5 separate regions of the Homo sapiens genome follow, and regions 1, 3, 4 and 5 are each linked to region 2. Evidence: fine-mapped expression QTL. A gene starts in region 2. Each other region holds a variant in brackets. All regions are shown on one strand. Distances are from middle to middle.

The links.
Region 1: its variant is fine-mapped to the expression of SURF1 in uterus (GTEx, PIP 0.96).
Region 3: its variant is fine-mapped to the expression of SURF1 in whole blood (TOPMed, PIP 0.99).
Region 4: its variant is fine-mapped to the expression of SURF1 in atrial appendage (GTEx, PIP 0.97).
Region 5: its variant is fine-mapped to the expression of SURF1 in lymphoblastoid cells (GTEx, PIP above 0.99).

The regions. Positions count from the first base shown.
Region 1 is chr9:132,408,665-132,415,008 of GRCh38, reverse strand. It overlaps CFAP77 (cilia and flagella associated protein 77), which reads right to left and starts at 4,798. Exons shown (of 6, transcript NM_001282957.2): 1 at 4,543-4,798. The coding sequence starts at 4,737. It overlaps LOC105376304 (a long non-coding RNA gene), which reads right to left and starts at 4,368. Exons shown (of 3, transcript XR_930405.2): 1 at 3,278-4,368; 2 at 1,694-1,780. RefSeq lists a silencer at 3,641-3,690. The variant C/T (reference allele first, on the strand shown) is at 2,685.
Region 2 is chr9:133,354,043-133,359,630 of GRCh38, reverse strand. SURF1 (SURF1 cytochrome c oxidase assembly factor) reads left to right here and starts at 3,144. Exons shown (of 9, transcript NM_003172.4): 1 at 3,144-3,231; 2 at 3,311-3,362; 3 at 4,674-4,807; 4 at 4,890-4,972. The coding sequence starts at 3,178. SURF2 (surfeit 2) reads right to left here and starts at 3,081. Exons shown (of 6, transcript NM_017503.5): 1 at 2,961-3,081; 2 at 2,563-2,717; 3 at 1,817-1,920. The coding sequence starts at 3,038. RefSeq lists silencers at 2,913-2,982, 3,223-3,342.
Region 3 is chr9:133,325,176-133,331,519 of GRCh38, reverse strand. It overlaps SURF6 (surfeit 6), which reads left to right. Exons shown (of 5, transcript NM_006753.6): 5 at 1-2,744. Among named protein-coding and RNA genes, the nearest start is that of SURF6, 7.8 kb to the left of the region's middle. The variant G/A (reference allele first, on the strand shown) is at 3,382.
Region 4 is chr9:133,197,623-133,203,966 of GRCh38, reverse strand. No RefSeq gene overlaps it. Among named protein-coding and RNA genes, the nearest start is that of OBP2B, 8.5 kb to the left of the region's middle. RefSeq lists an enhancer at 3,230-3,951. The variant T/C (reference allele first, on the strand shown) is at 3,475.
Region 5 is chr9:133,382,038-133,388,381 of GRCh38, reverse strand. It overlaps STKLD1 (serine/threonine kinase like domain containing 1), which reads right to left. Exons shown (of 18, transcript NM_153710.5): 3 at 4,482-4,526; 4 at 2,691-2,765; 5 at 834-935. Among named protein-coding and RNA genes, the nearest start is that of STKLD1, 8.8 kb to the right of the region's middle. The variant G/A (reference allele first, on the strand shown) is at 3,141.

The sequences.
Region 1 (6,344 bases), 940 kb after region 2:
TGGGATATTTGTACAACTGGGCTTTTGTCTGCCTGCCTTCTTTGTGTTGGTCCCTCTCCGTGCCTTTATGTTCGCCAGCATCAATATTTATTAGAGATGTTAAGCTATTAGTGGGCATGGTGTGGTTGCCTAATTTTGTAGAGCATCCAATTTGAACACACTGGCTCTAAATAAACGCTTCCTCGTGATGATAATGATAATGATCCCAGCGGCAGCACTGGGTCTTGTAAACTAGGACTCAAGTTGGGGTGAAAACCTACAAGCATTTAGGAGCCGAGGAGGGCGGAATGGAGCTGAATGACTTTCCCAACTCTGCTTTTTCACTTTTCAAGGTCTGGTTCCAGGTCCCTGAGACCTGCCCAGAACTCCCTTCCTGCAAATCTGAACTCTTCCGGGCAATGCAGCTCACTTGAAAACTTACGGGGGTGGGGACCCATCACAATGCCTGTCTTATTTGTGCATACCTGCGTGTGTGTGTGTGTGTGTGTGTGTGTGTGTGTGTGTGTGTGAATAAGAGCTAACATTTCCCAAGAGCTTTCCTTACAGCAGGTGCTGTGCTAAGCTGCCTGCCTCTTCGCATTCATCTCTATCTGCACAGTTATAAACGTGTGCATGTATCCCATCTCCCCAGCTAAATAGTAAATGGTTAACTCCTGTGAAATTCAGCAACGCTGAATTCTAAACTTGTTTCTATGCCCCCAGGAAAGCTCAGGATGGCACTGGGCACTTGACAAACCTTCAACAAATATTTCTTGGCCGTCAAGAAGTCCTAAGAAATCAGTAGAGCTCACTTTGGAAGGAACATTGAATGAAATGATATTGGGATCTGATTCATCTGTGAACACTTTTTGACTGCCTGCTATACATGATGTCACCAATCTGGATTGTCATTGGTTAATTAATCATATGTTGTGGCCAAAAGAACGTGGGGCTGGAAGCCAGGAGACCTTAGTCTCATCCCAATTCTGCCACCAGGTGAGGATAGCACCTCGGATGAGTCTGTTCCCCTCGCTGGGCCTTGATCTCCTCAAAAAAGGAGGTGGACTAGATGTCTGTAAGATGTCTTCCAGCCCCAAATGCCGTGTCTGCTCTATGACTCTATTTTAAAAATGCATGCACTTCTTATTGGTTACATAAAACCTCACAGAAAAACAAAGTCAATAATAAATTATGAAAAAATCGGGTGCTACGATCTTTTACACTTTCTAAGGGTGCTCGATTCCATAAATTCCACCCCCGTACATAGGCAGCCTCTCCAGGGAGACAGAAGATCCAAGGCTGTCAGGGGAGCAAACCAAGCAGTCTCTCCCTATAATTGTATTGACAGGTTATCAGCTGAGTTCCGATGGCAGGAAAGGTGCAACCCTGACAGGTTTTGTGAAGGAGTCTTGAAGGCTATTGTAGCAGGATTCTATGTGGAGTCACAGAATTCTGGGGAAATGAGAACCAAGCAGGGAGAAGCTTGGTTCTTTCTCTATTTAATTTTATTCTTTCCAGAGAGTCACATTTGAAGGAAAACGGGCTAACTGCACATCACTGTCTATACTAGAGTTGAAACCCTTTCTAATGGAAAATATTTACATCTTTTGTGGCCATGTAAAACACCGACTTGATTCAATCACTCCTATTAAATAACCAGTTGACTTGGTTTTAAATGAGGCAAATGGTTGTTGAGCATCTGTAGATAAAATACCTGCTTGGATGTCTCAGTTTTTCACTTTTCACTTGGTTATGGTGGCAACTTGCAGACGTGTTCTTGAATAACTGATGTGTATACATCCTGGTAAATTTTATGGATGTGAAATAACACTGTTGAGTTTGTTCAGTCAGTATTTCTACATTTTAAATGAAAAAAAATGCTGATCCTATTCATTGGAGAAAACAACCCACGAAACAACCCCCCAATATGGTAGAATAAATGCCTATTTCTAAGGTGCTATAGTCTTCCAATGCACACCTTCAGGTTCAGACTTAGACAAAACCAAAATATACTTTAGTTCTAATCACCCTCCTAAAGACACCACGGCAGAGTGCACTCCCAACCTCTACCATACATAGCGGAAAGGCACACACTACTACGGGGAGCTGAAAATCTATGATGGTGAAACTGACATGCCACAATGAAGAAATCCACAAGCCAAGCTCAGTAGAAATTTCCATAACATGAAAAGAAAAAAATCTTAAAGCTCCACAACCTCACATATTTTCCATTTTCTCTTTTTCTTTAGTCAAAAACACCAAAGTTGTTTCATAATTTTTTTAAAAAAACTAATATAGGAAGCTGTTTGAAGTGGTAAAAATAATGCTGGGCTGGGAGTTAGCAAACGAAGCTGCAAACCCAATCTCTGCCAAAACCTTGAGCAAAACAAACAAACAAACAAAAAAAAAAAAGCACAAAACAAACAAACAAAAAAACCCAAAAAAAACAACAGAGGTGGCTTCAGTGTGCTCATTTGCAAAAAGGGTCCAGAAAAGATAACAGTCAAGGTTCCCTTTTGCGGTCAATTTCTCTGCCAACTTTTATTTATGTCAGGTTTTGACCTCTAAAGTTATAAGATATTCTAATATTATATATGGTAAATACTGAAAAGTGGACGTCATCTTAACTGCTCCAGAAAGTACCTTAAAGACCCCGAAGAACCCACGAAGGAAAGCCAGAGGTAAAGGCTGCCCCCTGGCTGTCC[C/T]TGGTGGAAGAAGAGAACCCCAGGCTCCATCATCAGAGAGCACGAGCCTGGACGTGGGTCCCTGCTGCTCCAGCATGGTCACCAGGGGCCAGGGCAGACCTGCTCTGCATCTCGTGCCCTGAAGACAGAACCCCAGTCGTGGGTGAGTCACCTCCTGTACATTTTCCGACCCTAAGCTTGGGTTCAGAAATCAGGGATTGAATTGGTCCTAGAAGCTGTTTAGCTAGTGCCATCCAGAGGCCAAATGTTGTCCTCGATATAGCTGGGTGGGGCGGGGGAAGCAAAAGGAAAAAGGAAAAGAAGGGGGAAATTTACATATATGTACATACATTTTACACATATGTACATGTATATTATACATATGCATACATGTATATATGATAGATGTAAACGGTATGTTATATGGGTGCATACACAAATGCATATGCATGTATGTGTGTGTGTGTGTGTGTGTGTGTGTGTGTACATATTGCTCAGCGTGGGCACCACACACTAACTCACCATGGAGAATAACTCCATACGCCCTCACTTTACACTTCAGTAGGAAGAAGTTGGCTCACTACTAACTACTTGAACAAAAGCAACGACCTAACCTTAATGCAGGTAGTCAGAGGTGGCGGACGTGATTCTCTCCTTCATCCAAGAATAATGGGCCCCACCTGCCTGTCCTGCCTGTCCACTCAGAGTGGCTCTTCTCACGTAGAAGTAAGTGAAGGACCTTGTTCCACTTTGAGAGGCCTAAGAAAGGAGCCTATTCGATGGAAAGGCACGAGTGTGGGAAGCCAGCCTCCCCCAGGTGCAGCCTGCGCCTAGGCAGTATCCTTCCTCCTCTCAGGACCGAGTTTAGGGAAGGCAAGAGGAGGGAGTCAATGTTTTGCCAGGAGCCAATTAACTCAGTTAATTCTAGCACGGGTTCCCTTTTCCCCAAAACAAAAACAAACCGCCACCACCACCTCTGGGCTCTACTCAGCGCCTGGCGGTCACACAAATAATTGTTGTTGAATCCACGGTTACCACCTGCGCCTTCCACTCCCGCACCTGGGACGCGGGGCGCATTTTTAAAGGCGCACTGCCCTCCAGCGGCGCAAGATAAATTCGCCTCGAGGCTTGCTCCCTGACCCCCAAGCCTCAGCCTGACTTCTCCAGTGGCCCCCGGGAAGGTGTGGCCGCCACAGCAGTGTTGGTTTCCCATCAGCGGGAAGCGAGGCTAAAGGTGGGGAGGAGGGAAGTGTAATGGAAGGGAAAGTGATCCAGCCCGAAACCGCAGCTCCCTCATTCTTGTCTGCGGAGCCTCCTAGGCCAAAGATTATGCTTTTTTTCTCTTAGGGTTGTAATTTGGGTAAGAAATTAGTATGATCGAACGGAAATGAACATTCGACGTGATGCTTCCAGGACAGACACGGAGCCACCGCTGCATAGACGTACCCCAGGCGTGCAGCGGAACCGGAGAGGCGGCCTTTACCCTGGGAGGGCTGGCAGCCACGACTTAGACTGGGCGTGTGCGACCTATCTGTCACCCTGTGGGTTCACTCTGTGGGAAACCACAGCAGCACCCATTGCAGCCTTACCCCATGTCAGGCGCTGTCCCGAGGTCCCGCAGAAATTACCCTATTCAATCTTCCCAATCAGTCCCTTTAGTGGTGCCATTATCATCCCACTGTGAGGATGGGGAAACCGAGGCTGAGAGAGGCGACGCGACCTGCATGGGGGTCCAGGCCTGTCTGGACCAGAGCTGGAGCTTCCCACGCTGCGCTCGGACCCCGGGCCGCGGGGCCAGGGCGCTGCGGGTGGGGACCCCCGGCGGCGCAGGTGCCCGGAGCCGGCGACAGCGAAAGCGCGGTGGGCGTGGGGTGCTCACCTTGACGATGAGAGGGTTCTGAAACATGGAGTCCCGCACGACCCCCAGCCGCTCGTTCTCCATGCCGGAACGGATGTCCGCCACGGTCAGGGGCCGCCGCGGGGGCGGGCAGACCTGGCTGACCGTGCGGCGCACAGGCTGCTGCTGCTTCCTCCATCGCGTGAGGTCCGGGCCGGAGCTCCTGGCCTCTGGCATCCTTGAGGTCGCCGGGGAGCCGGCCCGCGGGCTGGTTTGGGCGCGCTTCCCCACGTCGGGCACAGCCTGGAGCTCCGAAGGGCCTGCCGGGCGGCCCGGGCCGCACCACCGGGATCCTGAGGGGGAAACTCAGATGCCAGGACCCCTCCGGAGCCAGGCGCGCCCCGCTCGCGCCGGCCCCTCATCGCAAAGAGCCCCGGAGCAATGCAGGAGCCCCGCGGGATCCTCAGGGCGTCTCCTGGGCCCCGCGTTGCAGACTGGGAGAGGAAAGAAAACCAAGACCACCCCTGGAGGACGAATGCAACGGCCCGTCTCCTTGGCGACGGGACGCCAACAGAGCCCGGCTCGGCTTGTACTTTTCTTTCAAGAAACTCTTGGTGGCTACCAGTGTGGACTTGTTTGGAGTTTTCCTGAATCGATACAGGAGAACCGAGAATCTCCAGTGGGTTGCGTTCAAAGCGGCGTGGCTCATAGAGGGTCATTTACATTTGTCTTCCAAGTCGAAGACTCCATCCTCTGCTCACCCCCATTCCACTCACAACCCCTCCCCACCTCTGCTCTTTGCGCCACACACACACCTGAGACAGAGCACTAAATGCATTCCAAGCCTGATGCTGATGCTGACCCACTGGGAGGACTCGGGCAAGTCACCCTCTTGGATCCTAAGGGCTTTTTTTCTTTTTTTCCTGTGAGATGGGTGACAAGGAAACGCTAGAGTTGGATTACATCAATGGTTCCCAAATTTAAGCAACAGAATGAAGGGAAATTGAAAAATACAGATTTGGGCTGGGCTTGGCTGCTCACCCATGTAATCCCATTGCTTTGGGAAGCCTAGGAGGGAGGATGGCCTGAGCCCAGGAGTTTGAGACCAGCATGGGCAACATGGTGAGGTCTCATCTCTACCAAAAATTAAAAAAATTACCCAGGTGTGCTGGCACACACCTGTGGTCCCAGCTATGGGGGAGGCTGAGGCAGGAGGATCACTTGAGGAGGTTGAGACTACAATGAGCCGTGTTTCGGCAACTACATTCCAGTCTGGATGACAGAATGAGACCATGTGCCAAAAAAAGAAAAACGAAGATTCACAGGACTCACCCCAGACTCACTAAATCAGAATATCTGGAAATGGCATCTGAGGCTCTCCTTTTTTTTTTTTTTTTAAGAGACGGAGTCTTGCTCTGATAATGACATGAGCCACCTCACCAGGCCAGATGCTGCATTTTTAAAAATCCCCTTACCCACCCACCCACAACTTGGTGAAAAAGTTCAAACCTACAGAAAAGTTGAAAGTCGAAAGAAGAATACAATGAAAATACATATAGGCTTCACCTAGATTCGGTTAGATTTTGAAGGGAAGGGGAGGGTTAAAGAAAGAGTGGCGGCTCTACAGCAAATTCAGGCTTTATGTCCAGCATGAGACCTACAGAGGTGGGAGACCAGCTTAATGCCAGTGCCTACCGCTGCTTACAGGCTGGAGAAATTATAGGCCTGGGCGGGGAGGGGCCCGGTGGGTATGGCCTGCTGCCCGGGAAGATGTTGATAAGGTATTCCCATGATGAGGCAGTTTGGCCCTTGTTCTGGTGGAACGTGATGTTCCTGTCACTTTC
Region 2 (5,588 bases):
CTTGGCATGGCCTCTCAAAGGCAACTCGGGCTGGCAGTGATGCCACCCTCTCCCCAGCAGCCTGAAGTCCTCCCTCAGCACATGGGAGACCCCGTCCCGGAGGGCGGGGCTCAGTGGAGGTTGGCTGCCTGGCCTTTGCTGCCCCTTAGTGGGTGAGAAGGGAGTTGGGACAAGGCTTCCATGGAAAGACCTCACTGGAGTCACCACCGTTGTCCCCTTGTATATTGGAGGGTCTGCTGGGGCTTGCCCTCCAGCCCAGCGCAGCTACCATCATCATCCCTCATGGGCTGCATGAGCCCTGCTGGGCCCTGGCCATTGATGTGGCGGCCCATCTCCAGGGCTGTTTCCCTCCTTGTCTCTGCCACCCACCCCCATGGCCATGCAGCAGCCTTGTCACCACCAGAACGTGAAGGCAGAGCCCCCTTACAGCCACGTTTGGACTTCCCTGGACCACTGCCTTGCAGTGACCTCGGCGCCCCAGTCCCATCTCAGCTCCACAGTCCACCATCATAACCATTCTTCATGGGAACCCCGTGGCCCCCTGCACTTAGAGCCTTCCTGCCCACCCCTGAGCAGCTAACACACTGGCTGGAAAAAGTCCAAGCCTCAGGCTGGCAGCCCTTGTGCCTGCAAGGCCTCTGCAAGGTGCCCGCCTTCTACTTGAGAAACCCTGGTCCTGCCTTCTCAATCCACACTCATGCTTCGGGAGGGCTGGACTGCCTCTCCGCACTCATCAGAAGCCCGTAGACGCATCTTCCCATCCGCAAACCAACCTGAATCTGTCCGCTCCAGCCTCTGTCCATTTCCCTCCTTAGCTGGACTCCAGAAAGGCTTTCTGGTGACCCAGCACCTGCCTAAGGCCGGACACTGCCCTCATGGGCTGCAGCCTACGCTCCACTCTAGCCAGGTGTCCCTGCCAAGCTTCAGGTGCCTCACCAAGGTTGCCAGGGGCCTCTGTGTTATCAAATCTATCATTTTTCTGTCCTCATCTTCCCTTCAGTACCACGGGAGGACTTCCAGCCTCTTCCTGGGGCTCAGGACCAGGCCTCTCTCCCTTCTCTAAACTCTCGCCGGGTGCTCACCCAGATCCACGGTGCAACCATCTCCTTCATCCAGCACGGGTGTCCCTGTTTCAAAAGCCCGATACTTCCCTAATACACACCTTTCCTAATACAGCTCAAGCTTAAAACCTTCAAAGGGACTCTGAATTCTCCCCCCAAAACCCACCGTCTTTTCCTGGATGACCGCAGTCAAGGAGTCCTCCCTTCTCAACCATGCACACTGTCCATGCAGCCCCCACCCAACCCTCTCCACACACCCACTGCAGTGCTCCTGGCCTGGTCTCTGGGTCATCCGGGCTGTGCACACTAGCCCAGCCAGTCCTTTGGAGCCTACCTCAGCCAACACATTTTTGCCTCAGACTTCCATGGACCCTGGCTTCTCCCTGGGGTGCTGTTCCCCCGACCCCACTGCCACCACATCCCTCCAGCCTCAGCCTCGAGCGAATCCCTCAGCGAGTCTCCCCAGCCCTCCTGTCTCCGCAAGCCCACCCCACATCCCTCGCCCAGTTTCTTTCACACCTCGCATTGCCACGCACACTCACTCACTCCCGAGCCTGCTTCTGGCTCTGTGCCTGCCTGCACTAAAAGCTGTGGGGTCAGGGGCCATCATCCCTCTCTTCACTGTGCCAAAAAACAGGCCTGATGCATCAACACGGATCGCTGAAGGACGACCTGCCTTCAAGCACGCTCCATCTGGGGCAAGGCGGGCATGCACTCAGATGGCGATGCACTGATGGGGGTCCACTGGGACTTACATTTACACAGAGCTCGCTGGTACCGCCGGCCCTGGGTGTGCCTCAGCACGTGTTCTGGGCACTTGTTGATGTGCCGCAGGGTGAGTTTGCAGAACAACTGGTGCCTACAGAGCAGAGAGACCAAATTTGTAGGGACAGTTCACAGCAAGGATTCAGACTGGTGGCTGTGTCTTGGACTCATCCCTGGACAGTCTACCATGCGGCTTGGACATCGGGCTTTTAAAGGCTCCCGGAGCAATTCCACTCTGAAGCTGGGTGGGGAACCGTCTGACCCAGGCCGACTGCAGCCTCTTAATGTTTACCGGAAAAGCACGCATGGCAGCCTCACTGACTGCTCCAGGATGAGTTCATGCAAGAGGATGGCTCCACCTGGAGCAAGGGCTCAATGAATGGAAACATCCTATCTCTGTTTTGACGATTATTACAAAGCCTAGCTCCCAGCTAAATCAAAGACCCCTTCTGGGGTTAAGGGAAGAACCCAACGCTGTTCACAACCTCAGGTGACAAATCACAAGCCTCTACTCATCTGGGAAGCAGCCACACCCCACAGGACAAACCTCAGGTGAGCAAACGAGCTCACCAAGAGGCCTCGCCGCTGGGACCGCAGGTGATTCCAGCACCCGGGCGCCCACCTGGGTCCCAGGGCTCCCAACTCTGAAAGAGTAGGGGCTGCAGCACTGGCGGAGTCCAGCGGAGGGGCTGTCCTAATTGCCCTGGGCCTCCCCGCGCCGCCGCGGACCACCTACGGGTTCTTGGTGCTGGGCACGATGTGCGGCTCGAACTCTGCATAGTCGAAGGCCGGGGAGGCGCGGACCAGCCGCTGGTACTTTTTGCCGCGGGTGTAGACCTGGAGCTCCGGCAGGCGGCAGGGCAGCTCGTGACCTGTCAGGATGCACCTCACCTGCGGACGCGTGGGCGGGCAGGACGTCAGGAGGGCCAGGGCTCCGCTCCCTGGTGCCCCCTCCTGCCGCGCCCCCTTCCCTCTCCTCCCCTGATCCCGCCGCGCCCTCTCCCCTGCCCTCCCCTCTCTCCTGCTCTCCCCTCTCCCCTCTCCCCTGCCCTCTCCTCTCCCCTGCCCTCCCCTCAGCCCCTCATCCCAACTGCGCCCTTCTCCGCCACTCCGTTCCCCTCCCGCGCTGCGAACCTTGCGGGCGTCCGTCTGGAGCCGCAGGCTCGGGTGCTCCCGCAGAAACGCCCGCACGTCGCCCGGCAACTCGCTCATGGCCGACGCGCCCGCGGAGCAGCCCGGCGGAAGCCGCTCGCAGAACCTGGAGCCGGGGGCGGGGCTCTGGGCGGGACTCAGCGGCGCCCCGGATGCAGATGCTTCCTGCGTCCCGGAAGCGCCCGCGGGGCCGGGTGCGATGGCGGCGGTGGCTGCGTTGCAGCTGGGGCTGCGGGCGGCGGGGCTGGGACGGGTGAGCGCCGGGTGCGGGGTGCGGGGTGCGGGGCGCGGGGAGGGGTCCCGGAGCTCAGCCCGCCCGTCCGTGTCCGCAGGCCCCGGCCAGCGCCGCCTGGAGGAGCGTCCTCAGGGTCTCCCCGCGCCCAGGTGAGGGCTGCAGGCCGGGCTGTGATCCAGGCGCCTGGGCAGAGCCACCTGCTGTCTGCCCTGCACTTTGAAGGGTTGTCGTGGGGATTGAAATGAACCAACTGCCGGCTGAGCGGAGGCTCCCTGGGAGTGACAAGTTCCGTATTAAAATGCTTTCAGTGGAATTGTGGTCGTGTGCCGGGCATGTAGCGAGCGCTTTGTCCTCACAACGCGAGAGGTAGCTCCTTGGTCGTTCCCCTGTTACAGAGAAGGCTCGAGAGTTACTTCCGAACGTCCCATCCAGCTAATGGGTGGCCAGCCCAGGCTGAAAGCCCAGGGCTCTGAAAGTAAAGCGTATCTAACCACCGCGGCTTACGTGTTCCTCTCAGTGTGCAGCACAGGGCTGTTTTGCCGTGTGTAGAGTGCTGTGCAAGCCTGCCCCAGGCCTGCCTTTTTATAAAAAAAAAAAAAAAAATAGTATCCGCAAGGCCCCTGGTGCTTTTCAGCGGATGGAACTCATCCTCTGAGAGCTTAAAGGCACTTTCTGTGTACATTCTTCCCTCTTTACATTTACGATGAGTTGTAAAAATGGAAAGCTGTTAAGAGAGCTCTGTGAGCCATTACTGAATTGATATATTTTTCTACATAACACAACAACCACTAGTGCCTGACTAAGCTACTTAGTAACTGTAGCTGCTTATTTTTTATTTTTTGAGACAGTTTCGCTCTTGTTGCCCAGGCTGGAGTGCAGTGGCGCAATCTCGGCTTACAGCAACCACCTCCTCCCAGGTTCAAGCGATTCTCCTGCCTCAGCCTCCCGAGTAGCTGGGATTACAGAAGCACCATCGTGCTCAGCTAATTTTTGCATTTTTTTGTAGAGATGGGGTTTCTGCATGTTGGTCAGGCTGGTCTCGAACTCCTGATCTCGTGATCCGCCCGCCTTGGCCTCCCAAAGTGCTGGGATTACAGGCGTGAGCCACCGTGCCCGGCCAACTGTAGCTGCTTATTAAATGCATTTTGAATGGATGAATGGTGCATCTTAGTGCAGTGGAATACATCTAGATTCTTGAGTAAAAAGGCATGAGTTACTCAGGGTCGTGGTTGGTGGTCAAACCGGCACTGAGCCCTAGATCCCACTTACTCACTTGGCAGACGTACTGTGTGTGCCTTGTTCTGGGCACCGGGTTAGGAGCTGGGCTGGATACAGGTGCTGCTAGTTGGCTCTAGGCAGCAGGTTTTGATTGGCAGTACTGGAGTCTGTCTTGGAACGGGCTGCTCCAGGTCTGTGTTCGAGGGCTTCTGGCTCCATGTCAGTGTTGTGAAACTCTCCAGGGGTGGCCTGGAGGCCAAGCAGATGTGGCAGTTCTGCAGCAGAAGCATCTGCCACAAAAGCGGAAGATGACTCCTTTCTTCAGTGGGTCCTGCTCCTCATCCCTGTGACTGCCTTTGGCTTGGGGACATGGCAGGTAAAGACCGGCATCTGGTGTGCGTAACTCTGGGCCCTTGACCTTGCTGCCATCTGCTTGGCCTTATGCTCTGTCACTGTAGGTCCAGCGTCGGAAGTGGAAGCTGAACCTGATTGCAGAGTTGGAGTCCAGAGTTCTGGCTGAGCCTGTCCCTCTGCCAGCCGAGTGAGTGCATGGCTGCCCCCCTAGGGCCTGTTTTACTTGAGTTCAACAGCAGAGCCCTGGCTTCTGCTGGCCAGCTTGCCCCTTTTGGTGGGACTTTTAGTCACTGCCTTGACCTCAGGTGGGAGCTCTCATTATCAGTCATCTGTTGGGCTTGCTGTTGACACCTGACTGCCCTTGTGAAGCTACCTGAGACCGCCTCCTGACATATGGAGGAAAGTCTTATTTTGAGTCCTGGGTGTCACCCTTTTTTCAGGTATAGTAAACTTATCCTCCACAGGGCCCAAGGCCCTGTGGCTGAGGACAGATAATGTAGGTCTCACCGTGAGGGTGGTCGTTTGAAAAAGTGCCCTGAATGATTTGTCTGCTCTCTCCCTAGAATATGCCCTACAGAGATAGGTATATTCAGCCACATTTTCCATTCAGGGTAGCAAACAGTATGCCAGATTTGGCTTGCAGATGGGGTTTTGGCCCACATATTTTTTAAAATTTCACATAAAATATTCATTGAGGAGTCCAGATTTTTAGCCTCTCTTGTAAAGTTGGACTCTGGCAGTGCAGATCCACATTCCCACATGGCATCAAAGTTCCCCTTTGAAGAGCACGCCCTTTGCCTTTC
Region 3 (6,344 bases), 28 kb after region 2:
CCTGTGTTCGCAGGAGCCACGGGACAGAAGACGGTGGCCTCTGCTGCCGGGCCACGTTAGTCCGCAGCTCACCCGAACAGAGGACAACCCTGAGGTGTGGCATATGGGCACCTGGCACTGGGAGTCGGGGGAGCACGTCCAGGCGTGGTGCATCCTGGGGCAGAACGCCATGGCTCCTCCCCGCTCTCTTGGCTTCTGCCTGTTGGGGTCTCATTCCTTTCTGTTCCCCAGTGCCCCGGGGCGGCATTTTACTGCTCAGAATTTGGAGGGAGGGAGCAGTACCTTCCCGGAGTCCACGCATGTGAGTTGGGTCAAGTGCATTGGACCTAGGGAAAGAGAAAGAAAGAATAAAAGCTGGAGAGAGAGTGAAGTGAATGCAAGATACAAAGTGGGATGGAAGAATTAAATCCAGAGTTCCAGGCAATCAAAATGAGTGCAGGTTGAAAGAAAACAGGTGAATTTTAGTGGCATATGGATGATAAAGCTGTAAATAAAATTCTTTTGATGAAACTCTCCGGTTATGAGACAAAGACTGTAACTGAACAGGAGCTGGTGTGACTGTTACCAGACAGAGGCAACTGATGAAAAAGCCCTGTGAAAGATAGGATGTGAGGTGAGCATGAGCTTGAGCTGAGAGACAGACACAACAGTATCTGAAAAGAATACATACTCTTTCCATGCATATATGGAACATGGATGGAAACTGACCACCTACTTTGTCCAGAAAAGAAGTCTTAAGATATTTCAAGGAATCAGTGTCGTTATCTGACCGTATCCCAATGTCATTAAAAAAAATTTGAGCTATTTTTTTTTGTTTTTTAGATAGAGTCTTGCTCTGTCACTCAGGCTGGAGTGCAGTGGCATTTCATATTTGGAATTTTTAAAACACACTTATAAATTACCTATGAGTTAAAGAATTCCGAATGGCTATTAGAAATATTTGGGACTAAAGGATAATGAAAATGCTACGTATTAAAATTTGTGGAACAGGGCCTGGCATGGTGGCTCATGCTGTCAATCCCAGCTCTTTGGGAGGCGGGTGGATCACTTGAGATCAGGAGTTCAAGGCTAGCCTGGACAACATGATAAAACCCCATCTCTATTAAAAATAAAAAATTAGCTGGGTGTGGTGGTGCAAACCTGTAGTCCCAGCTGCTTGGGAGGCTGAGGCGGGAGAATCACTTGAACCCAGGAGGTAGAGGCTGCAGTGAGCCAAGATCGAGCCGCTGCACTCCAGCCTGGGTGACAGAGCAAGACTGTCTCAAAAAGAAAAAATTTAAGATTTGTGGAACAGAGCTAAAGCAGCACAAAAAAACATAGCCCCTAAATGTATGTGCATCTACAGATAAATAGTGCCATTTATACACACATACGCTGTATGTCTGTATTTTTAAAGCTAAAGAAAAATAAGCATGCAGCTTAAGTTGGAACAACTCAAAGTAAATGGAAGAAAAATCTCCAAAACTGACTAAAAGTAATAGAAAGCCTGAGTTGTAATCACTGATGAAATTGAGTCAGTAGTTAAGAATGTTCCCCTAGACGGTTTTACAGGGAAGTTCCACGATATAGAGAACAGGTAATTCCAGACGTAGACAAATTCTAACAGAATCAATTGAGAGAACACTTCATTCGTGAACTTAGCTTTGATACCAAAACTAGGTAAGAGAAAGGGAAGTTACCAAATACCTGTGGGCGGCAAGCCACCCAGGCGCCGAGGCAAGAGACAGAGGACACGAGCTGTTCCAGTATAATAAAATATAAAACAAGAATAGTTACAGCAGATATAGATCTTAGATATGATTACATATGAATATCATTAATCATTAGTTTGTAGCAATTACCTTTTATTCCAATATTATAATAATCCTCGCTCTATAATCATAGCCTAGGAAAAACCAGGCCATACAGAGATAGGAGCTGAGGGGACATAGGTGTGACCAGAAGACAAGAGTGCGAGCCTTCTGTTATGCCCGGACAGGGCCACCAGAGGGCTCCTTGGTCTAGCGGTGACGCCAGCGTCTGGGAAGACGCCCGTTGCCAGGTGGACCATGGTCTAGCAGTAGCAAAAAGTATCAAGGAACAACACCCGCTACTTAGCAGACCGGGAAAGGGAGTGTCCCTTTCCCTGGAGGAGTTTAGAGAAGACTCTGCTCTTCCACCTCTTGTGGAGGGCCTGACATCCGGCAGGCCTGCCCGCAGTTATCTGGAGGCCTAACCGTCTCCCTGTGATGCTGTGCTTCAGTGGTCACGCTCCTAGTCCGCCTTCATGTTCCATCCTGTACACCTGGCTCTGCCTTCTAGATAGCAGTAGTAAATTAGTGAAAGTACTAAAAGTCTCTGATATGCAGAAGTAATGGCATAAGCTGTCTTTCTCTCTGTCTCCTCTCTCTCTCTGCCTCGGCTGCCAGGCAGGGAAGGGCACCCTGTCCAGTGGACACGTGATCCACGTGACCTTACCTATCATTGGAGATGACTCACACTCTTTACCCTGCCCCTTTTGCTTTGTATCCAATAAATAACAATGCAGCCAGACATTCGGGGCCACTACCGGTCTCCGAGCATTGGTAGTAGTGGTCTCCCGGGCCCAGCTGCCTTTTCTTTTATCTCTTTGTCTTGTGTGTGTATTTCTACACTCTCTCATTGCTGCACACAGGGAGGGAGAGACCCACGGACCCTGTGGGGCTGGTCCCTACAAATACCAATGTCAAGATTTTAGACAATAATAAACCAAGTTTAGCAAAGTGCCACACTGGATTTAATTCAGAATTGCAAAGCAGTTTCAATGCCAGAGAATCAAGAGTGTAATTCATATCAATAGATTAAAGGAGCAAAACCCACGTGACCATCTCAATGGTTGCAGAACAGGAACACAGTAAATGACGCGACAGCCATTTATAACGAGTTTTTAGCAAACTAGGAATTAAGGTATTTCCTTACTCTGATAAGGGGATTTGGAGCCAGGCATGGACCCATCTTGAAACTACATTCTGGGTCAGGCAAATGTAGATGTATTGGAGGGAAAGACATCCCCATGGGTTCCCAAGAGGTGAAGTCATCATAGTGAACTAAGGGGCCAGTGAGGGTCTGGAAAAGGCCACTGCCATCACCTGGCTACAGAGACTGAAGAGGCGGGGGGGGGTCTCGTCCTGAGCAGAGACAGGACAACTGGGTGGGCCAGTGAGGGCTGCAGGTGGGGGAAGCTGAGAACCCAGCAATATTTTACTGCCACTGGATGTCTGCACAAGGAACCTATGCCAGCCAGGGAGGTTGAGAGTGAGGCTCAGTGGGGACTGGCATACTGGCTGAGTGGATGCAGTCATTGAGCAACGCATGTCATGCATGGCGTGGGCCATCACTCTGCTGGGTGAAAGTTTCAGGAGC[G/A]AATGAGACCCAGCCCTAGCTCTCAAGGAACCCATAGTCTCATAGGTAGTGGTCCTGCAAAGTGGCCAGGGAAAGGATCGGGGTGCAGGGTGCTGAAGTCACATGGAAAGTTGTGAACGTTGCCGGTACCAAAATGGAGTCACTTATGTCAAACTAAAACAGTTGGAGGTGATGAAGCAGCCCTCACGCACACATTCCTGCAACAGGACTTACCACAAGACATTTCTACAAACAGACCAATAACAGGACTCACTGCAAGACCATCCTCAACGGTTGCAGTATTCCAGATAAGCTGCTATTCCCAAATCCATTTATTTTAGAGAGTCTATCTCTGGATTTCTTCATAGGTTGACTGTGTCATGTAGGATTCAGTATAGTGAACAAAGATTGGGGAAAGGCAGACCCCAGGCAGAAGATCAGAGGCAAGGGGGACAGTCATGCATTTGTAAGGTCTAAAAAGTTCAGTCTGCTTTTGTGATACCTGACGAATTTTCATATGTTGTGTTTTCATTCAGTTCAAAATACTTGCTAATTTCCCTTTGATTTATTCTTTGGCTAATGAGTTATTTAAAGGTATGTCATTTAGTTTCCAAATATTTGGGAATTTACCAGAGATCTTTCTGTTACTGATTTCTAGTTGAATTTCATTGTGGTCAGAGAACATACTTTGTATAACTTGAGTCCTTGGCTGGGGCGTGGTGGCTCACACCTGTAATCCCGATACTGGGAGGCTGAGGCAGGAGGATCATTTGAGCCCAGGAGATTGAGGTCAGCCTGGGCAATGCAGCGAGACCCTGTCTCTACAAAAAAATTTAAAAAATCACCCTGGGGCGGTTGCCCACGCCTATGCCTATAGTCCCAGCTACTCAGAAAGCTGAGGTGGGAGGATCACTTGAGCCCAGGAGGTTGAGGCTGCAGTGAGCCATGTTCCTGCCACTGCACTCCAGCCTGGGCAACAGAGTGAGACCGTGTATCAAAAAACAACAAAAAACCACTTGAATCTTTTTGAAGTTAACAGGGTTTGTTTCATAGCCCAGACTGTGGTCTCTCCTGGTAAATGTTCTGTGTGTGCTCGAGAAGAATGTTTTCTGCTCTTGTTGAGTCAAGTGTTTTAATGTCAGGTCCAGTGGAGTTCAAGTTCTGTATCCTTGCCAATTTTCTTTTCTTTTTTCTTTCTTTCTTTCTTTTTTTTTTCTTGAGACAGAGTTTTGCTCTTGTTGCCCAGGCTGGAGTGCAATGGCGCGGTCTTGGCTCACTGCAACCTCTGTCTCCTGGGTTCAAGCAGTTCTCCTGTCAGCCTCCTGAGTAGCTGAGATTACAGGCATGCGCCACCATGCCCGGCTAATTTTGTATTTTTAATAGAGATGGGGTTTCTCCATGTTGGTCAGGCTGGTCTCGAACTCCCGACCTCAGGTGATCTGCCTTCCTCGGCCTCCCAAAGTGCTGGGATTACAGGCGTGAGCCACTGCACCTGGTGCCAATTTTCTATCTATTCATTCTGTCAATTATTGCACTTCATCAAAAATTAAAAATTAGGAAAACAGATAAAAAGGCTCACAGTGGGAGAAAATATTTGTAAAACATACAGTATAATAAAGGACTTGTGGCCGGGCGTGGTGCCTCACTCCTGTAATCCCAGCACTTTGGGAGGCCGAGGCAGGTGGATCACTTGAGCTCAGGAGTTCAAGACCAGCCCGACCAAGATGGTGAAATCCATCTCTACTAAAAATATAAAAATTAGCCGGGCGTGGTGGCAGGTGCCTGTAATCCCAGCTACTTGGGAGGCTGAGACAGGAGAATCACTTGAACCTGGGAAACGGAGGTTGCAGTGAGCCGAGCTGTCGCCACTGCACTCCAGCCTGGAAGACAGAGCAAGACTCCATCTCAAAAAATAGTAAATAAATAAATAAATAAAATGGCATAACCATTTTGAAGGTTCGTTTTTGCATAAAGATGTCCAGTGTTCCAGGACCAGTTGCTGAAAAGACTGTCTTCGTAGAATTGCCCTTGTACCTTCATCTGAAATCAATTGGCCATAAATCTGTGTAGGTCTATTTCTAAACTGTGTGTTCTGTTCCCCTGAACCTTTCGCCAGCGCCACACCGTCTTAATCACTGCAGCTCTATAGTAAGTGTTGAAATCGGGTAGCATGAGTCTTCCAACTTTGTTCTTTTTGAAATTGTTTTATTTCACATTTACTACATATAGTCATTACTTAATCTGCATTTGCTCTTAAAAAATGTAGCTCTTCTGGTTTTTAGGAAGGCTTGATTTTTTTTGGGTCTAGTTGCTACTTACTGTTCATACCCTTAAATAATATCTTTAGTCCCCTCAACCTTTAAAAGAGTTCTCATAGTTCCCTACTATGAAATAATTTGTAAACCTTTCCCCTCTCTCCCTTCTCTCTCTTTTCTACCACCCATGGTTTTTTTTGTTTTTTTTTTTGAGACAGGCCTCGCTCTGTCACCCAGGCTGGAGTGGAATGGCGCCATCTCAGCTCACTGCAACCTCTACCTCCCAGGTTCAGGCGATTCTCCTGCTCCAGCCTCCCTAGTAGCTGGGATTACAGATGCGCGCCACCAAGCCTGGCTAATTTTTGTATTTTTAGTAGAGATGGATTTCACCATGTTGGCCAGGCTGGTCTCGAACTCCTGACCTCAGGTGATCCACCTGCCTCGGCCTCCCAAAGTGCTGGGATTACAGGTGTGAGCCACCATGCCCGGCCCACCCATTTTTTGAATGAATACTATTATATTTCTTAGTATTTGCCTCTGTCCTCTTTAATATGCTAAACTTCTCAGTTTGTCAGCATTAAGTGATGTCTTTAGAATCCAACTATAATATGAAGGAATCAGCAGGGCGATTCTATTTTCCATCCTCTCTCTGCTTTCTTGTCTCATACTGTTATAGCTGCCTTTGTAAAATTGTTTTTTTACACATTCTGTTACCTTTGTGTATGAGTT
Region 4 (6,344 bases), 160 kb after region 2:
AGAAGCTGGGAAACCTGTTCCTGCCCACTTGGAGGGCCTGGCATGGGCGGCTGTGGGTCTCCCTGCATCCTTGCCTGGGCTGTTTGTCCATTCATCTGCCCTATCCATCCAATGTCCTGGCCACCTCATGATGGGTGGACCAGGGACCTGTAGCCCTGGGAATGCAGCCCTCGAGGTGGGAGGCTCTGTCCTGGCGGACGTGGGCCCCAACCATCATCCATTTCTGCTCCCGAGAGCCCTGGCCCCATGCAGCTTCCCCTTCCAAGCTCAGCACCCCCCAATTCCACCCACAAACTCTCCAATCACTGAGTCACACGAAGCCTCTTCCCATGGCTCATAACCATGGGACCCTCGCAGACACCCAACATCTGAAATATTTGAGGACAGTATCCCAAATAAGTCAGGAAAACTTTCACTCCCAACCCAAGCATGGCAGAGGCACCGAGCAGAATCTCTCCAGGAGCAAAACGAGCCTTTCAGTGTTTGAAAATCAAGAAATCGCAGATGTGAAGGAGGGCAGTGGAGATTTTTTTGTTCTTTCAAAATGAATTTTTAAATATATGTACAAAGGGACACAAGTATCCTGGAGATGGCGCACCAGACGGGTTCTCTCCGACATGACTTGTTCACCAGGGGCCAAGTGTCCAGGCTGAGAGCTAGGGCCCCAGGCAGACTGAGAAGTGTGACACAGGGCTCGTGGGTCACCAGCCTTCCGGAAAGTGCTTAACCTGTTTCTTTGTTCGTAAAGAGAGGACCACAGGAGCACTCACCAGCAGGGTTGCTGTGAGGAACGGGCACACATCTACACACAATCTCACACATGAACACACATATGTGCGCACACACACACCCCTACACACACCTATACATGCTCTCACACATGCACACACACCTACACACACACTGCCACATGCTCTCTCTCACACATACACACAGTCTCCCACCCGCACACACACCTACCTACTCACAATGCACCCCCCTGGTATACATGCCTGGTACAGCCTAAGTCTGCATGTGTGTCAATGATGAGCCTTCTTGCTGGGGAGTGTAATCTGCATGCCTGCGGTTGCCTAACTCCATGTCTGGACTCAATATTAAGAGAACAAAGATGCTGGAGTCGGGCGTGGTGGCGCGCACCTGTAGTCCCAGCTCCTCAGGATGCTGACATGGGAGGATCACTTGAGCCTAGGAGTTTGAGACCAGCCTGGGCAACATAGCAAAACTCTGTCTCAAAAAAAAAAATTTTTTTTAAAGACATAAGCAAGCATTCATTATCCATAGAAGGATTTCAAATCACACCACTCCATATAACAAAAAAATATTAATTTTGTTTTTCTAGTGTGAGTCCCCCAGAAGCAGATGAGGCAGATGCAAGCTCAAGTGGTTTACTTAGGAGGTGGTCCCAGGAGACCCTCCTAAGTAGGGTTGGGGAGGTGACGTTAGCAGGGAAGGCCACTGGTGAAGGGTCCAGCATCAAGGTGACCACTTGCGACCAACTGGGGCTCAGTCCCTGGCGCTGCCATGTTTTAGACCAGCTCCAGCCGGTCACGGGATGGGGATGCTTCCATGGGGCACTTATTCCTGGCACTTCCCGCTGCTGCAGGGCAGGGCGGCTTAGGTGGAAAGACGACCCCTCCAGAGAGGAGCTGAGGACACTGCGGTGGAAACGTGGCCAGCGTGGCCTGCAATAGCAAGAACCAAGGGCTATGACAGCCCCCATGGCACCCACTGCAGTCCACCCCTGGCAGCTTCAGAACACTCATGCCCCACACTGAGCTCACACTTTGCTGCCACCGGGTCTTCAAGGTGACATTTGCCTGTGATAATTTCTAAAATACAAAAAAGAAAAAAGTCTTAGAACAGAAACATTCTTGGGCTGGGCGAGGCTCTGGCTGTGGCAGTCAGTGCCAGGCGTGGCTGATGTTCATCCTTTCCTCCTTGCCGCTGGCCAGGGGCTCAGCTAGACTAGGTCTCTTCTCCGGTGGGATAGCACTGACCTTCCCCGCCAGGGTTCTGAGCCCCCAGGTGGGCACCTTGGAGGTCTGTGGTCCTGCTGTGCCAATTCACAGGCCTGGAAGCACCAGAGGGTGCCCAGAGAACCCTGGAGTTCTGTACGTCCACCCCCATCCCTCTCATGGGACAGTGCACCTGTTGCTTGGTGATAGGCAGATTCACTCATCTGGCAGTAGGTTAGCAAGACTATCATACTGTATGTGCAAAAGAGAGATGGGCAGAAGTTTAAAAAGTTCTATTTTGCCTGCAAAAGTAAAGGCGGCGTCTGGCTTGCTCCTGGGCCCTAAGGAACGCTGAGCACCTGCCCAGAGGATGCCAGTGACGGTGGGGCTGCAGGTGCCTGTCTCGCCTGGCATTGCCAAAGGTTGGGTGGGCAGAAACCCTCAGCCGTCTGAAGAAGCAGGGCATTTCAGATCAGCCCCCAGCAGGAAGGTCCCATGAGGCCCTGGTGAGAGCTGACCGGAGGACATGGGGTCCCAGCCACCTGTTGGACACCATGGTGTGGGCAGGTCTGGGAAGCTTTTCTCCTCTTTTTTTTTCTTTTATGAGACACTGTCCTTCTCTGTTGCCTAGGCTGGAGTGCAGTAGTACAATCACAGCTCACTGTAGCCTTGATATCTCAGGCTCAGGCAATCCTGAGTAGCTCAGCCTCCTGAGTAGCTGCCACTACAGGTGTGCACCACTATGCCCAGGTAATTTTTTTTTTTCTTAGAGACAGAAACTCCCAACGTTGCTCAGGCTGGTCTCAAACTCCTAGGCTCAGATGATCCTCCTACCTTGGCCTCCCAAAGTGCCTGAATTCCAGTCATGAGCCACCGACTGTGCCTGGCCTCTTCTCTTCTTGTTGGTGTTTGTCTATTACACATAGTGAACAGCAGGAGAAATATATCCGAGGGCTGGTGGCAGTGCCCTCTCCCTAACTCACCCCTAAACCCCGCTAACAGACACGGAACAGAACCAGAGCCGGGAGGTTTATTCTCTCAATGCAGGGGGATTCCTGGAGGTTTATTGTCAATGCAGGGGGATTCCGTTGCCACTTGCTGCCATCTCTGCACGATCAGCTCCTATGCATCTTCCCTTGGACTTGTCTGTGCTCAGCGCCAGGCCCCCGCCCACCCGCTTGCCTGGTGAGTGCCTCTCATTGGCTCCTCTCCTCGGATCAGCGCTCGCCTCCCCCCAGGTCACTTCACTTTCTTCCGTTCCTGGCCTGGTACCGCATTCTTGGATATCAACCTTTTTCTCCGAACAATCCATGGATGCTTGTTCTTCCTTTCTGTGTGCGTTTAGGGGTTCGTTTTATTAAAAACAAACAAACAAAAGCGCTTTATATTCTTGATCTTTCGAGATCTTTCCAGGATCATTTATTTTCATCTTTTAAGTCCAAGAGCTTTCCAGGATGCGCAGGCCTGTGTCTCTCCTCACCTGCCTTGCCTGAATTTGTGAGCGCTAGCAATCTCACGC[T/C]CACACTCTGCGGCGTTCCTTCTGCTCGGAGAAATTTTATGCCATTCTTGGTCTCCTGTCCTCCATCCGTGTGCCTCCCTGCTCCTGGAACGCCCGGGGTTTGCAGGGAAGGCTCCCGCGCGCCCGGCCCCCTCCCGCCCGCGGGCTCTCACTCAGCTCTGGCTGAGAGCTTCCTCTTCGCGGTGGTCTTCACCTTTTACGTCTGGTTGCGGTCTCTCCTGCATCGTCTCACTCATTTCCCCATTTGTAAAGCACGTGTTTCCGAGCCCAGTCTGCTTTTGCGCCGTGGCCTCCTGTCCTCAAGGGGCGCGTTACTGGTTTGGCGCCCGCGGTGGCTTCCGCTGCCGTCGGGGCGCTCTGGTTCCCGCTCTCTGGGCCACTCACGAGCTGCGTTCCTTTGCCCGTCCCCGGGCTCAGGTCCAGGTGCTGCTTCTCCCGGCAGGCGTGACCTGAGATTGTCGTGGGTCCCGCAGTCACTGGCTCTGCGGACGTTTTGCTCATCTCCTGCAGAGAATCCTGGAGGAAGCCCTTCTATCCCCAGCCTCCTTGGGGCAAAGGCCGGGGTGCCCAGGTCTCAGGCTGCAGGGCATCATTGCCTGCGAGCAGTTCTCTGGGGGCAGGCCAGGGGCCGGCCAGCGGGGCCTTGTGGAATGTCACGGGAGTGGCACTGCCTTTCCGTGGGGCCTGTGGGTCACACTCCCTCCAAGAAGGGGAACGGACCCACCCCTGGCGGAGTCCTGGGCCTCCGTCCCTGGCTCCCGGGAGGCCTGCCTGGGAACGCAGCTGCAGCTGGGAGAGGAAGGCACCGGAGGTTCCCACACCGCCGCTCTTCCAGAACTCGCTCCGCCGCCGATTTGGAGCAGCTTACATTTTGTTTTGTCTCTGCTTCCATCCGCAGTATTTATTTCTGCCTCCTGTGTTTCTGTTCTTCTCCAGTCTCCCCAGAGTCCATTTCTTTCTTTCCATCTCTATAAGGAACCAGCTTCTGCCTCCGAGGAGTGTCTCTGCCTCTCCGTGTGCCGACTCCCAGCTCGCACTCCTGTCTCACGTTCCCTTGGCATTTTGGTTTTGCTCTGTTATTTGTTCGTTTGTTTATTGAGACGGAGTCTCACTCTGTCCCCCAGGCTGGAGTGCGGTGCGCCATCTCAGCTCACTGCAACCTCCGCCTCCCGGGTTCAAGTGATTCTCCTCCCTCAGCCTCCCAAGTAGCTGGGACTACAGGAGAGGGCCACCACGCTTGGCTAATTTTTGTTTTCGTGGGTTTTTTTTTTTGAGACAGAGTCTCACACTGTCGCCCGGGCTGGAATACAGTGGGGCCATCTCGCTCACTGCAACCTCCGCCTCCCAGGTTCAAGCGATTCTCCTGCCTCAGCCTCCTGAGTAACCGGAATTACAGGTGCCCGCCACCACGCCCGGCTTATTTATTTATTTATTTATTTTGTATTTTAAGTACCACCACGCCCGGCTTATTTATTTATTTATTTATTTATTTATTTTGTATTTTAAGTAGAGATGGGGTTTCACCATGTTGACCAGGCTGGTCTGGAACTCCTGACCTTGTGATCCGCCTGCCTCGGCCTCCCAAAGTGCTTGGGATTACAGGCGTGAGCCACTGCACCAGGCCTAATTTTTGTATTTTTAGTAGAGACGGAGTTTCACCATGTTGGCCAGGCTGGTCTTGAACTCCTGACCTCAAGTGATCCACCCGCCTCAGCCTCCCAAAGTGCTGGGATTACAGGCATGAGCCACTGCTCCTGCCCTGCTCTGTTATTATTTTTAATATTGATTTGAACACTTGGTTCATTTATTTGTATGTTATATGTTTCTTTTTTTTTTTTTTTTTTTTTTTTTTTTTTGAGACAGGGTCTTGCTCTGTCGCCCCAGGCTGGAGTGCAGTGACATGATCTTGGCTCACGGCAACCTCTGCTTCCTGGGTTCAAGAGATTCTCCTGCGTCAGCCTCCTGAGTAGCTGGGATTACAGGTGCCCACCACCATGCCCGGCTAATTTTTGTATTTTTTTTTTTTTAGTAGAGGCAGGATTTCACCATGTTAGCCAGGCTGGTCTTGAACTCCTGGCCTGAAGTGATCCACCTGCCTCGACCTCCCAAAGTGCTGAGATTACAGGCGTGAGCCACCGCGCTCGGCCATATTTCCATGTTTTATGTTTCTAATGCTTATGTCTGTAATTTTCTGAGTGCAACAAAGGACACCTTTAGCTGCATCCAACAAATGTTGATAGAGATTGCTGTCACTGTTATTCATTTCTCAGTAGTTCATAAGTTCCTTTGTAATCCTAAGAGTATACACTGTCTATGGGAATCTGTTGATAGTTCCTTTCTGATACATGGCTGAAAAGTTTTTGCAAACATTTCTCATGTGCTTGAACTTAATTTGTGGGTTTTGGTAGTTGCATATTTCCACAAACACCTATTAGATGAACTTAACTGATCATGTTACTTACATCTTACACTCTCAAATATTTTTCTCTACTTCATCCATTTGTTTCTGAATATCTCCGTTAAATAATCCCGCTTCAGTTGTTGATTTCTCATGTTCTCCTTAAATTCAATTAGTTTTTGCTCCATATATTTAGAATTTACAATTGTTTTGGTGTGGCCAGCTCAATGGTGGTGATTTTCTTTTCCCTAAGGATGATCATTCCTGTTATCAGCACCAAGCATCTTTGTGTGTTCACATTTGATGTTTCTCCTCATATTTCACAGCAACTTCTTTTGGAAAATATATTTTCCTTTTCATTCTTTGTTTTTTAACGTGAGTCTCTTTCTGATTTTTTTAATTATTTTATTTTGAAATTCACACAGAAAAAAAGTGGTTTTTTTCATGGACAGTTCTGTGGATTTTAGCATGT
Region 5 (6,344 bases), 28 kb before region 2:
CAGCTACTTGGGAGGCTGAGGCAGGAGAATCGCTTGAACAGGGAGGCGAAGGTTGCAGTGAGCCAAGGTCGTGCCACTGCACTCCAGCCTGGGCGACAGAGTGAGACTCCATCTCAACAACAACAACAACAACAAGACTGACACAATGAAGTGCTGGCCTCCATGTGGATCGGGAATGCTCACAACTTGTGAGAGTAAACATGGGGCCAACCAAACCAAGTCGGAAATCTGTTTGGAGCATCCACTGAAGCTACACACATGTACTCTACGACCCAATAATTCCACTCCTAGGTATTCATCCCAGAAAAGTGAGTGTCTTCCAGCAATGCTCATAGCAGCCTTATTCACAATAGCCCCAAACTGGAAGCAGCCCAAATGAGACTAGGTAAACAGCCTGCAGCGCAATCAGGCAGCAGAGTGGCAGCAAGCAATGAACACATGATTTGCTGGTGCATGCAGCAGCACCGCGGGGCTCACAACAGCAGGCTGAGGGAAGGAGACCAGACAGGAGTGGCAGCATGCCGGACGAGTCCATTTACAGGAACTTCAGGGACCGGCAGAACAATCTGGAATCATGGTCACCGACTGGGAACCTTCTAGTGTTAGGAACGCCTTCTGTCTTGATCTGGGTGGAAGTTGTGTGAGTGCATCAAACTGTGCACTTAAGATCTGCACACATTACCTAGAGTGCAATGCCTCGAGGCACACATTTAAGAAAAAAACAAGGCTGGACTCCATGGTGCCTGCCCTCCCGCTGTTACTTTGCCCTGCACCGCAGGGCCTGTGTCACAGGTCTAGGTGGCCCCCAGGCCTGGTGCCCCAAAGGACCTCACCTCAGAGTCAATGATTTTCTTTGCCTTCCTCTTATCCTCAATGACCTCCTGGAAGCTGAGCTCATTGAACTCCATCACCAGGCAGAGGTACAGAGAAGAGATCTGCTGGGACAGGAGGCCCTTAGCCAAAGGACGCCCAGGCCCCGGTGCTTCTGCAGGCTCACCTGCTCCAGGGCCTCCCTGCGCTCAGCTGCCATTTGCAGTGGCCGTGGGAGCACTGCCCACTGGAGGGGGCTACAAGCCCCTCCTGCCCCACCTTCAGCTTCCTCTCTCTCCTCTCCCCATTCCCAGGCTCCACCTCCACTCCACACTCCATCCACACCAAGCTACTTGGACTTTCCCAAAAGCTGCACTTGTCCCCTGGCCACTGCACACATGGACCCCTCTGCTTGGACCACTACCCACCCCCTTCATAGGGATAACTATGCACCCTTTAGGGCTCAGCTCAGACCCATTTCCTCTGAGGACCCTGCCCTGGCCAGAGCCCCAGCAGACCAGGTCAGGGCCCCCAATTCTGTGCTCCCTCCCATAGGGAAATGTCCTCTTGGCTTCTCTGCACCCTCCTTGAGAGCATTAGGGGGTGCTCAGAAAATCTTTGGGAGTGCATGCAGTGAGGTCCCCTCCCCAAGACCCGCTGGAGCAGAGGGAGCGTGTGAGGGGCCTTTCCTGCTCGGACCCGGGATTGTTGGCCCCAGGTGGGAACACCAGTGTGGACATCTCATGCAGGCTGGCGCCTGGCAGAAGGCTTCTCAGCCTCTCTTTACCTCCAGCACCCCTTGTGCCTGCTCAGCCTCCCGCTGTCTGCCTCAGTCCCATCAGAAGTGACTGGAAAGCTCCTGGCTCCTTGTAAAGACAAGAAGTCATCCAGCCTACAGGACCCGGCTGCTGGACCTGAGTCTCCGTCCCCAGTCAGCTGTTTACTAGCTGTGTGGCCTTGGAGAGCTCCTGAACCGGAGCCCTAGGCCCCATCAGGAGCACAGGGACAGTACTTCCTGCCCTGCAGCCCTCCTGGCACGTGATGACGGATGTGGTGCTGGTCAGTAAGCTGCACAGGGGCTGCAGGAGTAAGGGGCGCACAGGCCCAGGACGGCACCGGTGTCGGGTGGCTGTGGAGACGGAGGTCAACTAGCTCCTTCCATGAAAGTAAAAACTCTGTCATCAGAGGCACAGGCTCACCAGGACAAGCTCGTTGGCTGCGTGCAGAGCCCGGGAGTCAGGCCCATCTGGCCTGGCCCTCTGGCTTGGCCACGTACTAGCTGGGTAACCTGGAGCAACTTGTTTCTGTTAGCCTCTGTTTCTTCTTCTGTCAAATGGGTTAAGAACCCCTCCTGGTCAGGCGTGGTGGCTCACGCCTCTAATCCCAGCACTTTGGGAGGCCGAGGCGGGCGGATCACTTAAGGTCAGGAGTTCAACACCAGCCCAGCCAACATGGTGAAACCCCGTCTCTACTAAAAATACAAAAATTAGCCGGGCATCATGGCACGCGCCTGTAATCCTGGCTACTCGGGAGGCTGAGGCAAGAAAATCTCTTGAACCCGGGAGGCAGAGGTTGCAGTGAGCCAAGATCACACCATTACACTCCAGCCTGGGGGACAAGAGCGAGACTTTGTCCAAAAAAAAAAAAAACTCTCCTGACGATGAGGTTTTTGGGGCTCCTATGAGACTATGCACCGAAAGCCCCCAGCATGGTACCTGGCCCCAGTGAGTGTTAGGTCAGGGGTGGCCACGTTTACAGTCACTGCCATTGCCACACGAGCTATTCTGACAGTGGGGGGTGGGCGTGCTCTGGGCTCAGTCTGCTTGGTCCTGCAGCCCACTGCGTGGCGGCTGAGCCCGTAGGTGTCAGCTCTGACCCACCTCCCCATTCCACGTGATGAACAGCTCCTGGTACACAGAGATGTGGGCGTGCCGCAGCTTCAGCAGTGGCATCAGCTGCCAGGATAGAGCAGAGGAAACGGAGAAGTCAGTGCCTCTCCACGCCTTTCTCAGCTCGGGCTTCTCTGTCACACATCCCAACAAACATGCAAGCCTCGGGCTCTGAGCTGGGCCAGGGAGTGGGCTCAGGGAAGCTGCACGGTGGTTGGGAGCCAGGCAGTCCGATGTGGGTCCTGTCTCCAGCATGAGCTGGCTGTGCTGGGTGACTGGGCCTCATATAGTCATCTGAAAATGGGGGTCCTAGTGGAATCTGCCTCACAGGGATACCATGGGGGGTGAGTGAGCTGTGGCAGGCAGTGCCAGGAAGGTGGGGATCAGCCACAGCCAGGGCTGGCTGGAGGAGGTGGTGCAGACACCGGGAGGTGGGCACAC[G/A]GAGAGGTCCCGGTGCCCCTGCCCTGGCGGAAAGTGCTTTGAAACATGCCCAAACAGGAGCAGATAGGGCTGCCTTAGAGACATGGAGCCAGACAGACAACTGCTTGGGGTGGAAGGTTGGGCATGAAAGCAGGTGGCCTACCTAGTGGGCTGTGGATGGGAATCGGCAACGTGAAAAGCCACGGCGGCGTGCGGCTCTGGGCAGGCCCCATGCTCTTTCTTCCCATTTGTTACCGAGTAGCCTGGGCCCACCACTGTGCTTCGGTCACACTATACACCCAATAATGTTTGCTGGCCAAGCTCCAGAGCCAGCAATTCCAGAAGACAAACAAGTGACCATGAGATAAGAGGGGACACCTTCAAGCTCGTGGGAAATTCAAGAAACACAAAGAAAGGCTACTCGGAGGCTTTGCCAATCAAACCGAAGTGCAGCTGTTATCGCTATTATTGTAAACGAGTATGTTACTGCTGGGCAGCTCTCAATGGTAGAATTAAGGGTAATTTATATTTGTTTTGTTAAACAGTTCTGGTATGGGTGTGGTGGTACATGCCTGTACCCCAGCACTTTGGAGGCCGAGGTGGGACGATTGCTTGAGCCCAGAAATTCAGACTAGCCTGGGCAAAATGGTGAGACCCCATTGCTATTAAAGAAAAAAAAAAAAAGGTAAAAACAAAAGAAAACCCAATTCTGTATTTTTAAAATTTTCTGCTGTAATTAATAATTTTATATTGAAGAAAAAATATTTAAAGAAGTTATTGGTAGATTAACCTAGGGACCCGGCCAATATTTATTTATTTTTGAGACAAAGTTTTGCTCTGTCACCCAGGGTGGAATGCAATGGTGCAATCTCGGCTCATTGCAATCTCCGCCTCCCAGGTTCAAGTGATTCTCCCGCCTCAACCTCTCGAAGTAGCTGGGATTACAGGTGCCCACCACCATGCCCAGCTAATTTTTTTGTATTTTTGGTTGAGACAGGGTTTCCCCATGTTGGCTAGGCTGGTCTTGAACTCCTGACCTCAAGTGATCCACCCGCCTCGGCCTCCCAAAGTGGTGGGATTACAAATGTGAGCCACCGTGCCCAGCCCAATATTTAAATTTTATGTTCTCTGGGAACATATGTTCTAAGTTGTCGGCACCTGCATTTAGCAGTGAGTGTTTGGGGCATGGACTCCCTTCATGACCTGGGGCTGCTGGCTTCACAGCTGAGGCAAAACTGGTGCTGATGCTCTATCCCTCCCTCCAGCCTTCTCTTCATCCAGGCACTCAACAAGAAGGTACAGAACACAGTCTGTGTATGCTCCATTGAGCTCTTCCAGAGGGAAAACTACCCTGAGAGTTACCTCCTCCAGGGCCTGACTGGCGTAATGGTCATCCATGCATTCCACCTGCAAGGGCACAAGAGCATGAGCTTAATAAACATGTAGCAAATCATCTCCGTTATCACCGCCATCACCACCACCACAACGACCATTACCATCATCTGCACAGCCACCACCTCCACCACAACCATCACCATCATTACCACAACCACAACCAACACCACCATCACTGTCACCATCATCACCATCACCATCATCACCATCACTGCCATCATCACCATCATCACACCACCACCACTACCATTACCACCATCACTCCATCACCACCACCATCAACACTATCATCACCATCATTAACATCATCATTACCACCTTCATCACCACCATCACCATCACTGCCATCATCACCATCATCACCATCACCACCATCATCACCATCACACCACCACCATTACCACCATCACTCCATCACCACCACCATCACCACTATCATCACCATCATTACCATCATCATCATATATCATCACCATCATTACCATCATTACCATCATCACTGCCATCACCATCATTACCATCATCACCATCACCATCACCACCATCATCACACCACCACCATTACCACCATCACATCATCACACCACCACCATTACCACCATCACTCCAACACCACCACCATCACCATCATCACTATCATCACCATCACCACCATCATTACCAAAATCACCATCACACCATCATCACCATCATCACACAATCATCACCATCATCAAAATCATTACCATCACCACCTTAACCATCATCACACCATCACCACCACCACCACTATCATTACCACCATCACACCATCAACACCACCGTCACCATCACCACTATTATCCCCATCATCACCAACCTCATCACCATCATTACCACCATCACCATCACACCACGACCACCATCATCATCACACCATCACCACCATCACACCATCAACACCACTGTCACCACCACCACTATTATCCCCATCATCACCACCATCACCAACATCATCACCATCATTACCACCATCACCATCACACCACCACCATCATCACACCATCACCACCATCAAACCATCAATGCCACTGTCACCATCGTCACTATCATCACCATCATTACCATCATCACCACCATCATCACCATCATTACCATCATCATTACCACCATCACACCATCAACACCACTGTCACCATCCCCACTATTATCATCACCATCACCACCATCACCATTACTATCATCACCATCACACCACCACCACCATCATCACATCATCACCACGACCATAATCACCATGACCACCATCACCATCATCACACCATCACCATGACCACCATCACCATCATCACACCATCACCACCATCACCATTATCATCACCATCATCATCACCATCATCACTGCCACCACCATCACCACCACTACCACCATCATTGCCACCTCCATCATCACCACCATCATCACTATTTAGCAGGAGTGACAGGCTCCCACCATTCCTGCCCCCACCATATGGCACAAATGGAAGATATTCCTAAGGCAGAGATCTAAAAATACTTAGAGCAATGAGAACATCTTTGCTCCTTTTGCAAAGATAAGTTTAGGACAGCATAATATACGCTCCAAGAACTCAGTAAAGGATCCATTTTCAGACCGTCTTTAAACAGGAACATCTTGTTCTGGTTGGGAAAGCATCAATCTCACCACTTCATTCCTTACCCACATGGGGAAGGTTGTCTCCACGCATGGAATGTACAGTGCTCTTCTCTCCTGTGCCCTCTCCGGGTGGAGGTGGGGAGGGCATGGAAAGGGAAGGGTGGTGGCAAGGGCAGCACGGAGCTTTGAGTCTGCAGCACGCTTGGTGGCACAGGCCC